2 separate regions of the Homo sapiens genome follow, and region 2 is linked to region 1. The links come from fine-mapping of genetic effects on gene expression. A gene starts in region 1. The other region holds a variant in brackets. All regions are shown on one strand. Distances are from middle to middle.

The links. PIP is the estimated chance that this variant, and not a neighbour inherited with it, causes the effect.
Region 2: its variant is fine-mapped to the expression of PRR13 in tibial artery (GTEx, PIP above 0.99). The same link has a PIP of 0.9 or more in tibial nerve.

Annotation. Positions count from the first base shown.
Region 1 is chr12:53,436,599-53,444,928 of GRCh38, reverse strand. It overlaps PRR13 (proline rich 13), which reads right to left and starts at 3,195. Exons shown (of 4, transcript NM_018457.4): 1 at 3,137-3,195; 2 at 2,196-2,234; 3 at 1,156-1,538. The coding sequence starts at 2,214. RefSeq lists a silencer at 3,198-3,347 and enhancers at 3,638-3,727, 3,458-4,223.
Region 2 is chr12:53,843,865-53,852,194 of GRCh38, reverse strand. LOC105378250 (a long non-coding RNA gene) reads right to left here. Exons shown (of 5, transcript NR_189099.1): 2 at 3,239-3,336; 3 at 1,783-1,885. Among named protein-coding and RNA genes, the nearest start is that of HOXC13, 91 kb to the left of the region's middle. RefSeq lists an enhancer at 2,723-3,922. The variant C/T (reference allele first, on the strand shown) is at 4,805.

The sequences.
Region 1 (8,330 bases):
TTTTATCCTTGCTATTTTTTGTTTGTTTGTTTGAGATGGAGTCTTATCTGTCACCGAGGCTGGAGTGCAGTGGTGAGATCTGGGCTCACTGCCATCTCTGCCTCCCGGGTTCAAGCAATTCTCCTGCCTCAGCCTCCTGAGTAGCTGGGATTACAGGCATGCGCCACCACACCCAGCTAATAATTCCCAAGTGCTAGGATTACAGGCATGAGCCATGGCACCTGGCCACCCTTACCAATTTTTAACACTCCTCTAAAACAAAGATACTTAGCCTTGGAGCTGAGTATAAAACCTCCTTAGGGCTGGGTGCAGTGGCTCACGCCTGTAATCCCAGCACTTTGGGAGGCCAAGGCGGGCGGATCACAAGGTCAGGAGATCGAGACCATCTTGGCTAACACGGTGAAACCCCATCTCTACTAAAAATACAAAGAATTAGCCGGGCGCGGTGGCGGGCGCCTGTAGTCCCAGCTACTCGGGAGGCTGAGGCAGGAGAATGGCGTGAACCTGGGAGGCGGAGCTTGCAGTGAGCCGAGATTGTGCCACTGCAATCTGGCCTGGGCTAAAGAGCGGGACTCCGTCTCAAAAAAAAAAAAAAAAAACCTCCTTAGTCCTAGGCTTTGTTAGAAGCCTAGTCACTGACTGCTCTTGTCCTCACTTTTTCTGCTGGATGATAGGGCAAAGGACCCATGTAATTAACACAACGCCCTAAGAACACTGATGAAAGAGAGAAGGAACTTCTGGAACTAGGGACAGATTAATTCTGTTAATTATTATAAGACCTTGCTTTGTCAAAGGAATGACTTTGGTATTTTGACAATGTCAGTGGGCGTGTCCAACTTGCTAGAATATGCACCTGGCGGGAGGGGAGCAAAAGTTCTGGGAGAGTAGGGCAGAAAAGATTTGGCTTTTGATTCTAAAATCCATTCTAAGGCTCACCCTAACTCCCCCCAGATAGGAGAAGCCTGATGTTTATTTTCAAGATAATCAGATTCTTCCCAGTAGCAATCTTTTATAAAAAGGAAGAATCATCTACCAGAGCGACACAATTGTCATCCCTCACGTCCACAGAATGTGAATCCCCCTCACCCAACCCCTGCCTACCTAGTCCCTCTGAGGGGGGACTCCTTCCCTAGCCAGTCTCCAGAGGGTACTGACCTTGCCATGCTTGTGGTACTTGTGGTGCTTTTGGTGCTTGTGCATCTTTTTATGAGCTTTCTTCATTTTCTTCTGCATCTTCTTGTCTACTATCACTGCTGGTCCAACCATGCCAGGAGCCAAGGGATTCACAGGAGGGATTCCAGGGGCAGGCGGTGGGTATGGAGGAGGGTAGGGACCCAACGGTTGGCATCCTGGATACCCTGGCTGTGGCACAGGATGAGGGGGCCCACCTGGGGGGAAAGCTGGATTGCCATGGGGAGCTCCTGGGGGAGGAGGACAGGGGCCTGGGGGAAAGGGTGGATTAATAGGTGGTGGGTGGGCAGGATTGGAACCTCCAGGGCACCCAATATTGGGGGGATATGGATTTGGCCCTGGCTGCCCTGGTGGAAGAAGCAGAGAATAAACATTAGAATTCCCCAGAGTCTCCAACAACAAACAACAAAAAGAAAGAGATTCTTTCTCACTCAATACTTAAAGGGAAACGGAAAGATGACAAAGAAGAATGGAGGGTAGGGGAGACAAACTTGAGTTGGGGAGAAAAGGGGGAATGTCCCTGGAAGGGCTAGGGAGAGGAGGGAGACAGTGAACTCTGAGGAAGACAAAAGCACTGGTCAGTCCAGGCGCGGTGGCTCACGCCTGTAATCCCAGCACTTTGGGAGGCCGAGGTGGACAGATCTCATGAGGCCATGAGTTTGAGACCAGCCTGGCCAAATTGTGAAACCCCCATCTCTACTAAAAATACAAAAAGTAGCCGGGCGTGATAGCATGCGTCTGTAATCTCAGCTACTCCAGAGGCTGAAACAGGAGAATCGCTTGAACCCAGGAGGCGGAGGTTGCAGTGAGCCTGGGCAACAGAGACTCCATCTCAAAAAATAAATAAATTAAATTAAATTAAAAAGCACTGGTCAGCTCTAGACTAAGGACTTTGCTTTTGCGGGTACAGCAGGTCGGGGGTAGGGGAGCTGATACAGAAACTTCCTGTTATAGAGCCCATCAGAAAAAGGGTTAGGGGTGGAACAGAACCCCCAAACACCTACCGGCATTGGGATTCCACATGTTTAGGTGTGTCCTCCAGCCTGAGGAGAAAGAAATGAGGCAAAAAAGATGACGGTCTAGAGGTAGGAAGTGGACTTAGCACCGGAGCCCAGCCCTAACGTCTTCCACCCCACAGTAGGCTCTCCTACCTGGAGAACTACCACAACTTCCACATAAGAAATGTCTCTTTTCTGGCTGGGCGCGGTGGCTCACGCCTGTAATCCCAGCACTTTGGGAGGCCGAGGCGGGTGGATCACGAGGTCAAGAGTTCGAGACCAGCCTGGCCAACATCGTGAAACCCCGTCTCTACTAAAAATCTAAAAATTAGCCGGGCGCGGTGGCGGGCACCTGTAATCCCAGTTATTCGGGAGGCTGAGTCAGGAAAATTGCTTGAACCCGGGAGGCAGAGGTTGCAGTGAGCCGAGACCGCGCCACTGCACTCTAGCCTGGGCGACGGAGCAAGACACCGTCTCAAAAAGAAAAGAAAAGAAAAGAAATGTCTCTTTCCACTTGTTTCTTCGCCCTCAATACCTACTTGGTTCCTAACACAGGAATCTAGTTCCCAGGGCCCCTCCACCCAGGTGGAAGCGTCTAACTCTTCGGAAGTAGGCAGTACCCGCGAGTCTCGGCCCCACCATCACTCATCTCCCTTTCCCTGGAACTGAGTACGGAGGCCTTTAACCACGCACAGAGTAAGAAAGGATCTCAAACAACTTTCTCTCTCCCTGGGGAGGACCCCACCTCAGGCTAAAAAAAGGATACGCCTCGAGGCGAAGTAAGAAGGAAGTTGCCCAAGAACCTCAAATACTTAAATATGTGGACACAGCCCCCTTCCTCCAAAAAAGAAAAAAGGCAAATGAAGATCCTAGCCCCAAGCTGCGAAGAGACTCTTGACCTAGCAAGGGGAAAAGGAAAAACCTATGGAATCCAGATACCCCATCACCTTTCCACCGCCGCCTGGGCTTGCTGCGTTCTCCTTCGCAGTCTCGGCTCTTCCTAGTCACCCAGACCCCGTGCTTCGGCACCCGCCTCTGCTACTGCCTAATTGGTAATTATGTGGCCGCTCGACTGATGATTAGACAACAAACTAATCAATCACTCTGGTCCGACTGAGGAGGAAACGGTTGCTCTAGGGGCGGAGCGGAGCCCTTTACGGCTAGGCCAGTACCGAGAAGCCGGAAATCTCCTGGGGGCGGGGCTAGGCGGAGAGCGCTGGAGGGGGCGGGGCCAGCTGCTGGGCAAAGTCCTAGAGACACCGAGAAGAAACTCTTCCCTTGCTCTCTTACCTCATGGTTCACTGGGTGCAATACCTTGTAAAATGAATACACTATGGTAAGTGTTGTAATACAGATATAGACAGAGTTCTCGGCAAGGGCAGAAGAGCTGCTGAGTCCCAGCCCCAAGCCTCAATGTTCCCGGCTCCGTCTTACACTCGCAAGGGAAGCAAACAAACATTCTTGCGGAAGATACAGAGATTTCATAATCTCTCCCAGGATTCCCTCTCTCAATTGCATAGCTCCGCCATCTGTCAAGTAGCCTAAACCAGAAACCAAGGAGGGCGTCCGTGATCCCTCTGCCTCCTTCACCTCCCTTACCCCAAATTATCAGTTTTGTCTCTCAAATATATCTGGAATCTCTCCACTTCTCTCTGTCTTCCCTGCTCCAAACCTCCCATCATCTGTCGCCTGGATTCATCTCTCCCCTGAATTGCTACAATGGCCTCCCTACAATGGCCTCCCTTTTTTTTTTTTTTTTTTTTTTTGAGACGGAGTCTCGCTCTGTCACGAGGCTGGAGTGCAGTGGTGCGACCTCGGCTCACTGCAACCTCCGCTTCCCGGGTTCAAGCGATAATCCTGCCTCAGCCTCCGAAGTAGCTGGGACTACAGACGCGGCTAATTTTTCTATTTTTTAGTAGAGATGGGATTTCACCATGTTGGCCAGGATGGTCTCGCTCTCTTGACTTCGTGATCTGCCCGCCTCGGCCTCCCAAAGTGCTGGGATTATAGGCGTGAGCCACCGTACCCAGCCTTTAAAAAAAAAAAAAAAATACAAGTGGCCGGGCGCAGTGGCTCACGCCTGTAATCCCAGCACTTTGGGAGGCCGAGGCAGGCGGATCACAAGGTCAGGAGTTCGAGACCAGCCTGGCCAATATGGTAAAACCCCGTTTCTACTAAAAATACAAAAATTAGCCGGGCGTGGTGACATGTGCCTGTAATCCCAGCCACTTGAGAGGCTGAGGCAGGAGAATCGCTTGAACCCGGGAGGTTGCAGTGAACCGAGATCACGCCATAGCACTCCAGCCTGGGCAACAGAGCGAGACTCCATCTCAAAAAAAAAAAGAAAGAAAGAAAGAAAGAAAGTGAGCTAGGCATGGTGGCACATACCTGTAATCCCAGCTAGTGGGAAGGCTGAGGCATGAGAATCGCTTGAACCTGGGAGGGAGAGGGTGCAGTGAGCCAAGATCATGCCACTGCACTCCAGACTAAGCAACAGAGCAGGACTCTGTTTCAAAAAAAAAAAAAAAAAAAAGTGGGATACAAAAAAATTTAAGACAATAAATTTTATGCCAAATATGTCATATTAAACTAAAGCATTTGAAATATTTTAAACTTTTTTTCTTTTAATTTTTATTTTTAGTGCTGGGGTACATGTGCATGATGTGCAGGTTTGTTACATAGTTAAATGTGTGCCATGCTGGTTTGCTGCACAAATTTTGCTGCACCAATAAACCCATCAGCTAGGTATTAAGCCCAGCATGCATTAGCTATTTTTCCTAATATTCTCACTCCCCTGACCCTACCCCCCAACAGGCCCCAGTGTGTGTTGTTCCCCTCCTTGTGTCCATGTGTTCTTACTGTGTAGCTCCCACTTGAGTGAGAACATGTTCCTGCATGAGTTTGCTGAGGTTAATGGCTTCCAGCTTCATCCATGTCCCTATAAAGGACATGATCTCATTCCTTTTTATGGCTACATAGTATTCCATGGTATATATGTACCACAGTTTTTCAGTCTATTGTTGATGGGCATTTGGATTAATTCCATGTCTTTGCTATTGTGAATAGTGCTACAGTGAACATACACATGCATGTATGTTTGTAATAGAATGATTTATATTCCTTTGGGTATACACCCAGTAATGAGATTGCTGGGTCAAATGGTATTTCTGGTTCTAGATCTTTGAGGAATCGCCACATCGTCTTCCACAATGGTTGAACTAATTTACACTCCCACCAACAGTGTAAAAATGTTCCTATTTCTCCACAACCTTGCCAGCATCTGGATTTTGGTTTTGGGTTTTTTTTTTTTTTTGAGACTGAGTCTTGCTCTGTCGCCCAGGCTGAAGTGCAGTGGCAGGATCTCAGCTCACTGCAACCTCTGCCTCCCGGGTTCAAGCGATTCTCCTGCCTCAGCCTCCCGAGTAGCTAGAATTACAGGTGCCTGCCGCCACACCTGCCATATATATATACATATATATATTTGTATTTTTAGTAGAAACAGGGTTTCACCATGCTGGCCAGGGTGGTTTCAAACTCCTGACCTCAAGTGATTCACTCACCCTTGGCCTCCCAAAGTGCTAGGGTTACAGGCATGAGCCACCAGGCCTGGCCTGTTATTTCTTGACTTTTTAATAATCACCATTCTGACTGGCATGAGATAGTATCTCATTATGGTTTTGATTTACATTTCTCTAATGTTCAGTGATGTTGAGCTTTTTTTCATGTTTGTTGGCTGCATATCTTCTTTTTTTTTTTTTTTTTTTTTTTTTTTGAGACGGAGTCTCTCTCTGTCGCCCGGGCTGGAGTGCAGTGGCGGGATCTCGGCTCACTGCAAGCTCCGCCTCCCGGGTTCACGCCATTCTCCTGCCTCAGCCTCCCAAGTAGCTGGGACTACAGGCGCCCGCCACTACGCCCGGCTAATTTTTTGTATTTTTTAGTAGAGACGGGGTTTCACCGTTTTAGCCGGGATGGTCTCGATCTCCTGACCTCGTGATCCGCCCGCCTCGGCCTCCCAAAGTGCTGGGATTACAGGCGTGAGCCACCGCGCCCGGCCGGCTGCATATCTTCTTTTGAGAAATGTCTGTTAATGTCCTTTGCCCCCCCCTTTTTTTTTTGAGACGGAGTCTCGCCCTGGCCCCGTTGTCCAGGCTGGAGTGCAGTGGCACGATCTTGGCTCACTGCAAGCTCCGCCTCCCAGGTTCGCACCATTCTCCTGCCTCAGCCTCCCGAGTAGCTGGGACTACAGGCACCCGCCACCGTGCCTGGCTAATTTTTTATATTTTTAGTAGAGACGGGGTTTCACCCTCTTAGCCAGGATGATCTTGATCTCCTGACCTCGTGATCCGCCCGCCTCGGCCCCCCAAAGTGCTGGGATTATAGGCGTGAGCCACCGCACCTGGCCTTTTGCCCACTTTTTTTTTTTTTTTCCTATCTCTTTTTTTTTTTTTTTTTTAATTGATCATTCTTGGGTGTTTCTCGCAGAGGGGGATTTGGCAGGGTCATAGGACAATAGTGGAGGGAAGGTCAGCAGATAAACAAGTGAACAAAGGTCTCTGGTTTTCCTAGGCAGAGGACCCTGCGGCCTTCCCCAGTGTTTGTGTCCCTGGGTACTTGAGATTAGGGAGTGGTGATGACTCTTAACGAGCATGCTGCCTTCAAGCATCTGTTTAACAAAACACATCTTGCACCGCCCTTAATCCATTTAACCCTGAGTGGACACAGCACATGATTCAGAGAGCACCGGGTTGGGGGTAAGGTCATAGATCAACAGCATCCCAAGGCAGAAGAATTTTTCTTAGTACAGAACAAAATGGAGTCTCCTATGTCTACTTCTTTCTACACAGACACAGCAACAATCTGATTTCTGTATCTTTTCCCCACATTTCCCCCTTTTCTATTCGACAAAACCGCCATCGTCATCATGGCCCGTTCTCAATCAGCTGTTGGGTACACCTCCCGGACGGGGTGGCGGCAGGGCAGAGGGGCTCCTCACTTCCCAGAAGGGGCGGCCGGGCAGAGGCACCCCCCACCTCCCGGACGGGGCGGCTGGCCGGGCGGGGGCCGCCCCCCACCTCCCTCCCGGACGGGGAGGCTGGCCGTTGCCCACTTTTTAATGGGGTTGTTTTTTTCTCGTAAATTTGTTTGAGTTTCTTCTAGATTCTGGATATTAGACACTTTGGCAGATCACAAAAATTTTCTCCCATTCTGTAGGTTGCCTGTTTGTTCTGATGATAGTTTCTTTTGCTGTGCAGAAGCTCTTTAGTTTAATTAGATCACATTTGTCAATTTTTGCTTTTATTGCGATTGCTTTTGGTGATCCCATCATGAAATCTTTGCCCATGCCTATGTCCTGAGTGGTATTGCCTAGACAGTGTTCTTTTATTCTGAAATAATTTTAGACTCACAAGAAGTTGTAAAATTTACCCAGCTTCCCCCAGTGATAGTATCTTACATAACAAGACTATCTTTTGACTGAGTGGGGTGGCTCATGCCTGTAATCCCAGCACTTTGGGAGGCTGAGACTGGTGGATTCCCTTGAGCTCAGGAGTTCGAGACCATCCTGGCCAACATGGTGAAATCTTGTCTCTACAAAAAATAGAAAAATTAGCTGGGCATGGTTGTGTGCGCCCATAATCCCAGCTACTTACGAGGCTGGGGTGGTAGGATCACTGGAGCCTGGGAGACAGAAGTTACAGTGAGTCAAGATCATGCCACTGAACTCCAGTCTCACTCACAGAATGAGACCCTGTCTCAAAACAAACAGGCTGGGCACGGTGGCTCACGCCTGTAATCCCAGCACTTTGGGAGGCCGAGGCGGGCAGATCACGAGGTCAGGAGATCGAGACCATCCTGGCTAACAGGGTGAAACTCTGTCTCTACTAAAAATACAAAAAATTAGAGGGGCGTGGTGGCTGATGCCTGTAGTCCTAGCTACTCAGGAGGCTGAGGCAGGAGAATGGCATGAACTTGGGAGGCGGAGCTTGTAGTGAGCCAAGATCATGCCACTGCACTCCAGCCGGGGTGACAGAGGGACACTCCATCTCAAAAAAACAAAACAAAAACAAACAAATACTACATTTTGATATATTTTTATATTAGGTTTGTGCAAAATACTTGAAATAATTTGGAAGGTTTTCTAAA
Region 2 (8,330 bases), 410 kb before region 1:
TGCTGAACACAGGGTTTTCCTCCTCTGAGACGAGATGAGACGGGTAGCATAATGAACCCTCTTTAATTAAAAAATAAAATGTTTTAGGATAATCATATTCTTCTAAGTTACATTATTTTTTTAAAGGAAAGGACAGATCGTGAGAAAATGTCCATTTTCAAGTGCCCCATGTTAGGCTGCCTCAAATGGACTAGTTTCTCATTCAACCCTGTAGATTCAAAATTAGATCCTTAGGGAGGCACTTGAGTCCTTGCATTATTCCTAACATGAAGCTAACTTTTTTTTTTTTTTTTTTGAGACGGAGTCTCGCTCTGTCGCCCAGGCCGGACTGCGGACTGCAGTGGCGCAGTCTCGGCTCACTGCAAGCTCCGCTTCCCGGGTTCACGCCATTCTCCTGCCTCAGCCTCCCGAGTAGCTGGGACTACAGGCGCCCGCCACCGCGCCCGGCTAATTTTTTGTATTTTTAGTAGAGACGGGGTTTCACCTTGTTAGCCAGGATGGTCTCGATCTCCTGACCTCATGATCCACCCGCCTCGGCCTCCCAAAGTGCTGGGATTGAAGCTAACTTTTTAAAAACCCTTTCTGTACTCCCACTTCTCTTAAATGCAATAGGCAGGTTCAATGTCAATTGATTCCAGCCAAGCAAAGCAGTGGGGAGGGAGCAAAAGTCAGGGTACTGAGAAACAGAGACTCCTGGTCCAGCAGCTCTCTGACATAATTTTGTGGGATTCTCTAATAGAGAAGTGGAATGTTCACGTTCCCCATTAGAGAGCTCTTCCCCAGTTTCTTTGGAGATATTTGGGATGTGAGTAGATAGACAGAGGTGGGAAAACACTCATTTAGATCTTAAGTTGGAGGGAGGCACAAGCTCTGATGAATTGAAAATGTCTCTCTTCAGGCAGGAAAACTAGACTAAGACAGAACTGGGGGAGAAGTTTTGCCTGAGTTCTACCTCTCAATGTGTGGGTTGGTGGCCTTGGGGGACAATGATCGACCACCAAGATAAATATGAGAAATCCAATTCAGGAGGTTTCTTTTCAGTTTCACCATTCTCATTTTCTTTGATTCCTATTTCCTATTCTACTACTTCTGGGTGCAGCCCCCCTAAAGCAAAAATTTCTGAATCCTAATGAAGATATCTTTATTCAAGGGAAAAAGTAATATATTGGAAAATTTAAATGGAAATCTGTTTCCCCCGCCAAGCTTTTCCTACACTACTTTTCTGAAAAGAAAGAGTAAAGCAGCCTAAAACCTATTACTATAGTTTACACCAAAAATGATCTCTGATAGAATCTACATATTAGGATGTGTCTATACCCCCCCCCAGAGCAGGTATTGTGTCCTCTTGTAGGCAGCTTCTTTCACCTCTTAAGATACATTACAGCCTTTCCTTAGGCAGTATAAATCTGTGTTCTTATAGTTCTGAGATTGTAGTGTCTAGCCACTTGGGGAAACATCTACACTTCAAGCTACATTTAGACAAACACACATGCACACACCCACACACATCCCCTCCCTATATCCATATCAGACACCTGTGGTGCATTCACTGGTTTCAGATGCACTTACACCGGCTACCTGGGATTCCTCTAAATTCCTACTTATGAATTTAGAAAAGGCAAAAATCATGTAGGCAAGCATTAGCTCCCAACAAGAGTGTAGACATGGATAAGTAAAGGTAGTGAGAGTGGGAAACCCATTTTATGAGATTTTATAAGACAAAATAGGGTAAGGACACACACATACACGCACACACAGTCCACATGCACCAGAAACACTCACCTGCTGTGGCTGAATGCAAAACTGAAGAGGCTTGGAAATCTACCGGTGGGGAGGGGCCTCACAGTCAACAGCCCAGAGAGCTTCGCCCTGCCCGGGTCTACACCTGCCCAGAGAGAATTTTGGTAATTTTAATAAAACCAAATTAAATCCTAAAGTAAGCCTAGTTGGTGATTCAGGAGGGATAGCCCCAGACCATTATAGGATAGCTATAAAATAAAAAATAATATATAGATGGATAAGAATAGGAGCAAAGCAAATAAAATCATTTTAATGGAGGAGAAAGGGAGCATGGCAGAGAAGAGGGAAAACTGCCAAGTGTGAAGAAAAAGTTGCTTACAGGATTCTCCAGGGTAGGAGAAGCTCTCTGGCCACCTTTTCTTTTTGTGGCTTTTGAGATGGGGGCCTGCAGAAGACAGAAAAGATTGGCACAAATCCTGGGATTTGTGCATTTGTAAGGAAAGCAGAACATGCTTCAGTAAAAAATGCCTCTCTACATAAAACAGAGAGGCAAAGAGGTCTGTGGTGTTGGAAATAGTGGAGGGGTGTGGAGGGCAGCAAGCCATTGACATCCCTGCTGTCAAGAAATGTATCTTTTAATTAGAGGGACAAGTTTGTATGCAAGACACTTGATGGATGTTGGCACTTTATGTAAGCATGTTTTACTTAGTTTTTCATGACATCTTATGAAATGTATAGTGTATTACTTAATTTAGTTGAGGAAACTGAAGCTCAAGGGGTTAAGCAATTTGCCCAAGGTCAAAAAGCTAGAATGTTGAAGTTCTAGGATTTGAACCCAGGCCTGGCTTGCTCAAAGCCTAAGCATGTTCTTTCTATTGCCATGAAAGAGACCAAATGTAGTGCCGATGTTTCCCAAGTAGATACAGATCTGGAGGGATGGTCAGTGTGTCAGCTTGTCCAACTTACCGCTCTTTGTGCAAAATCCCTGCCCTACTCCCTGGAGCCCCTTCCCTCACCCGAGAACTATCGTGGGCAGGGCCTCTTTGGCTGAGGTTGTCTTCTTTCTCCCTCACCACCCTTCACAAGAAGAAGACATCAAAGATTGCGCAGGGTCATAAAGAGAGGGAGGGTGTTAGAAGGGAGGAGCCACCCTGGGCTCATAAACTAGGCGGGGTTGGGGGGACCCACCCATTTGTCAGGCAACTCTGCATCTCACTTTCCCCAAAAACTGACATCTCAGCTCTTGCTTCAGGGCAGGGTGCTTAAGCAAAGTGCGGGTGGTGGGAGTGAAAGGAGGCACATGGGAGCGATTGGAGCACCGGGTCATTCTGACAGAAATGGCACCTCCTCTCCACCCGCACCCTGTGAGGCTGAGACATTTACGTGGATTCGTTTGGTTCTTGTTTCAGTTCTGCTGCTCTGTGGCCTTGAGGAGCTTCTTCCTGTCCTCTCATCTCTTCACCTTGTTCTGGGGTAAATCATCTCTGGACCGCCTTACCTGCTGAGCAGCTCACTGGAGACCACACCGTGGAGGCACACCACACAGAACAGCCAAACTCCCCAGGCCACAACCAGGCTACACCTCCTGAAAGACAACTGGAGAACCAAAGAGCATCAGTCTTTGTGGCCTCCCTGTACCATCTCCTCCTACCATCAGAGCATACCAGAGCCTCCAAACTCTTCTTGGGTAGTGTCAGAACCTGCAACGGTCATGTTAATTCAGTAAAAATGTCTGTGTCTTAGATCTGAGTGCAGTCGCCTCCGTTGACCTTTGAGCTCCCTAAGGACAGAAATCAGGTCTTAGCCCTAGAGGGTTCCTCCACTGAATGGAGAGCTCTGCACATAGCAGGGGCTCTTGAAATGGCATCACCAAAGTCGGTAAGAATCAAGAGGTTTGTTCTCCTATGCAAATTGGATAGTCCAAATTAAAATTCCCCTTCCTCCTGATTATTTTGATCATAGAACTGTTTTTTTCTTCATCAACATAGTCATCAGCAAGCATTTATTGAGCATTACTGGAGGGCTATGCTTGGTGTTTGGTACAAGAGATGTCAGGTCCTGCCATCAAGAGACATAAAATATACATTTTAATATACACAGAGTTTCTCAGCTCTGCCACTTTCCGGTCATGGGATGCCAGACAAATTTTTTAACTATTCTTTGTTTCTTATGTTAAAATGAAGAAAGCAAAAGCCCCTACCTCACAGGGTTGATGTAGCAATCTAATTAGATCGTGCATATAAAGCACCAGTGCCTGACACATAGTAAGCACCCAATAAGGTGGCTGTGGGAAACCAGCAAAAGTTTCTAAGCAGAAAAGTGGCAGAGAGAGAGAGAGAGAGAGGTGGAGATTGGAAAGCTTTACTCTACTCCCACTAACACAGAACTAGTGGGATAACAGCAAAAGATATTTAGATTGGGTCTAAGATAAAGTTAATAATAGGTGAATCAAATACTACATGAGCTCTTGTTCCCCTGACATCTTTAAGAACTGGGCATCCCATTTAAAAAAAAAAAAGAAGAATGAAATTATGTCCTTTGCAGCAACATGGATGCAGCTGGAGGCCATTATCCTAACCAAATTAACACAGAAGAAAACCAAATACCACATGTTCTCACGTATAAGTGGGAGCTAAACACTGAGTACATATGGACATAAAGATGGAAACAATAGACACTGAGGAATACTAAACGAGGAAGGAAGGCGGGGATGAGGGTTGAAAAACTACCTGTTGGGTACTATGCTCACTACCTGGGTGATGGGATCATTCCTACCCCAAACCTCAGCATCACACAATTCCCCCATGCAACAAACTTTCACGTGCACCTCCTGAACCTAAAATAAAAGCGGAAATTTTAAAAATTAAATAAATAAATAAATAAAAGAACAGGGCATCCAACCACGTGTTAACAGTATGGCCTAGAGATGGGACCCTGGACAGATTAGCCTCTGGGGATTACTTCTAAATAAGACTGCTTAGAATGTTCAAAACTTCAGCAATTAAATACTATCTGCATGTAAATGATGGCATTTTTTTCTCATTTTTCTTAATATTTATCTGAC[C/T]TTACAGTTAGATTTACTGTGTATTTTACACCTGATATCTTTTGGGCCCCAGGCCAAGGTCATCTTATCCTGATTCTGTGAGTTAGGAACACTTCTGTGAATTAGAAATTCTGTATTCCCCATCCTGAAAAGTTCTTCAGAAAGGGCTCCCTAACTCCTTTTTCCATAGTTGGACAATAAAAAGACTTTCAGCCTCCTTGTAACAGTCACTACATTTTGATCAAATGCCAACTGGGTCACTTACTAGTTTTGTAACCTTGAGGAACTCACTAAACACTCTGTTCCTCAGTTTTCTCATCTGTAAAATGTGGGTAAGAATTCCAAGCACACAGGTTTATCATCGAATGATGATAAATGACAACACTTTGGAACTGTAAAATGCTCTTTAAATGTTAGTTATTATTATTACTACAATGTTTCAGTATTATGGAGAGAGAGAGAGAAAAGGAGGCAGTTGGCAGGAATTGTGACACCAAACCTCTTTTGATTTACATAGTTTGATTTATACATTTGACTTTTTTCTAAATCAAACAGTATTTTTGAAATCCTCAACAAACTGAAACACTGGTGTCTGCCAAGTGGGTAGCACCTGGGAGTTTAGAAGACTTCGTTGAAGTGACTGTTGTGTGGCGTTCAAAGGATGAAGCATTGGGGGTCTCTCATAACATACTGCAGGTTAGGTCCTGCAACTGTCAGTTCCTAGCTGGATTTAAAGAACTTTTAACCTCCAAACCCGGCAAAGGATGCTGGGACAGGAGCTAAATCTGTAATGGGAGGGGTGTGTAAATTCTGCTCCAAGGTGTGAAAATAAGGCCTAGAGGGAAGACATCAAGCAACCAGGCACCCTCCTTCCCTGAAGTCCTATTTATAGTATAAATAGTAATAGTAGGATTGGCAGATACGGGCTAAGGATAGGGAAACAAGGAGCAGAGCTTCTCTGAGCCCCAAAGACAGCAATTGCAATGAACTACATGTGTTTAGAGTCAGGCTGATGGCTGTCTTGCATCCTCAAGGAATAAACAATAATAACCCCAATCATCATCTCTCGATGTCAGAAAATAGTCATTAGTGTACTGCTCCTTCTAAACCTTCCCCAAGAGTAAGGCTCAGAGTTGGTCCCATTTTGTAGATAGAAAACTGACGCATCATGACTGATGCTAGCTGGGATAGGTACCAAGTTCAGGAAAAAAGTCCAGGTGTTTCCAGTTGCTATTTTATCCACAAGCACATGTTTACCCCCATAAAGATCTCTATCCAGCCGCAGTGGATGCCTATCTGAATTTTGGCAGTGACTGCAGTGGGAGGGTGGTGGAGTAGCATGGGCATTGCCATGAGAGGGCACAGGGCAGAATGGGGCAACCTGGCATCCCTCAGGGGGATGACGCTTGGGGGGATAACGCTTAGGGGGCTGGACTAGGGCACCTCTCACGTTTGGAAGCTTCAAGACTCTGCATTCTCAATGATTTCATCTCTCCATAATTTCCTTGCAACTAGCAACAAAGAATTTCTAAGTTCCAAGTATTTCCTCTTGCTTTGACTGAGTCTTGTGAAATCTAAAAGGACAGAGGAAAGAAGGACCCTCAGGACAGAAGACTTTCTCCCTTCTCCCCCAAATTATGGAGAGGGGCAGTGGGGCACACCTTATTCTAAGCAAGCCTGTTTACCAGCTGCCAGCCCAGACACCCTCCAACAAAATGCCATGGAGAATGATGTTGTGACTCATGGCTTGGCAAGTACCAGGATTATGCCCCAGGCTCCCAGATACCACACTGGCTCCTCCAGGTCGCTCTGGCTGGATCTCCTCCTCCGTTGCCCCAGAGGCATTCCTCATCTTGCCCTCTCCTCCCCAACCCCTCCCACTCTCAAATCATTCCAGGTAGTGGGTGTGGGGGACGGGAGAGGTAAGCAGGGTTAGAATTGGGATTTGGGTTAGGGTTAATTTCAGGATCAGGATTAAAGATAAGGTTAGGGATAGAGCCAGAGCTACTTTGTAGGATTTGGTTTAGTCAGTGGACTTTTAGCTGGTAGAAACAGAACTCTGCTAACTTACAAGTATTCAAGTCTTGGGTTAGCCGCCAAGATGTCTTGGTGACAGGTCCACTTTTCTTGGGCTCAGATTAGAAGGGTTAGAATCTAATTTAGAAAATAGGAAATGTCAACACTTAAAGATGTAATCAAGAATCACCTCTAGGAATCTAAGCAGAGGCTTTCTGGAATGCCTGGAATGTCTGGAAACATTCTAAGGGTTGTTGATACTTTAGAACCATTAAATCCATTCCCCAGGCATTGTGCAGTATTTTGTGACTTTACCTTGACCTCAGTCTTAGAACTTTCTAGTATACTCAAGAGTCTTTCTTGGATTTCTTTCCCGAGTCCTTTCCTTGTCTTATTGAATGAATTGTTCCTTTATCCCATCAGCATTGAGAATGACTGGGGGAGTAACTGAAGAACCAAGACCCTGATATTTGGGTATCTTGGGTGCCACCTTGGCAGAGAGGTACCCAGCAAAGCATTCTGCGTCTTCCCAGACTGAGACATCTGTCAGCACAGCTCAAGAGGTTCTCCCTCAGGCAAAGGACAAGACATACAGCAAGTTCTGAGCTCAATTTCTGAGGGCAGGAAGAAAATAAAACTAGGAAAACTGCAAGGGCAGCAGGGAGGTATGGAGCAGGAGGCTTCCCAGGAAGTCATGGGAGGCATTCAGGAGAAGTTGGAAGATAAACCAGAGTGGTATTATGGGGTTGAATTCCTAGAAACTCATACTTAGAGACTGTTCACACACACACACACACACACACACGCACATGCACACATATCAACACCTCCTTACATGAGGAGCCCAACCCAGTAAGGTGAACTAGCTGGCAGCCCACCCACTACTGGGCAACCAAAATCTCTTCCATTTGAAATGGGGCCTCAGTGTCTCTTCCTTCTTTCCTCACTCTCCTTCCCCACATCTGGCTCCTTTAGTGCTTGGAGACCCTTCTGTGGAGGGACTAGGAGGGTACGAAGCTGGCTAAGCCCAACCTCAGCTGCCTTCCCCATAAGCAGCAGCAAGATGGTGATGAGCTGCCCCCCTCAAGGCTCAGAGGCGAGGGATTTTTTTTTCTTTCAAACATGTCACATCTGGCACATCTGCTTTCTTAGCAATGATGCATCCCAAGGGGTATAATCAACACTTGGGGCGGGGCTCAGATGCAGGTCTGTACTTACAGAAGCCTGAGCCAGAGACGCCGAGAGCAACACTTAAGAGCACCAACTGCCCCCACTCCCCATCCACTGCAGGAGCTGAAGATCAGCTCCATCCCTGTGCACCTTTCTGCCTTAGAGCAGGTGCCCTCCTCACAGGCCACACATATTTTAGGGCACAGAAGACAATGAAATGGTGCATTTGCTTTGGACAATTCTATAATCCTTTCTTTTGTCCAACCCTAAACTCTCCTATTGGAATTAGAAGGAAACTGGAAAAGAACCATCTGCTCTTTCCTCTTCACAAGCTCAGAAGCAGGAGTCAGAAAGGCCCTGC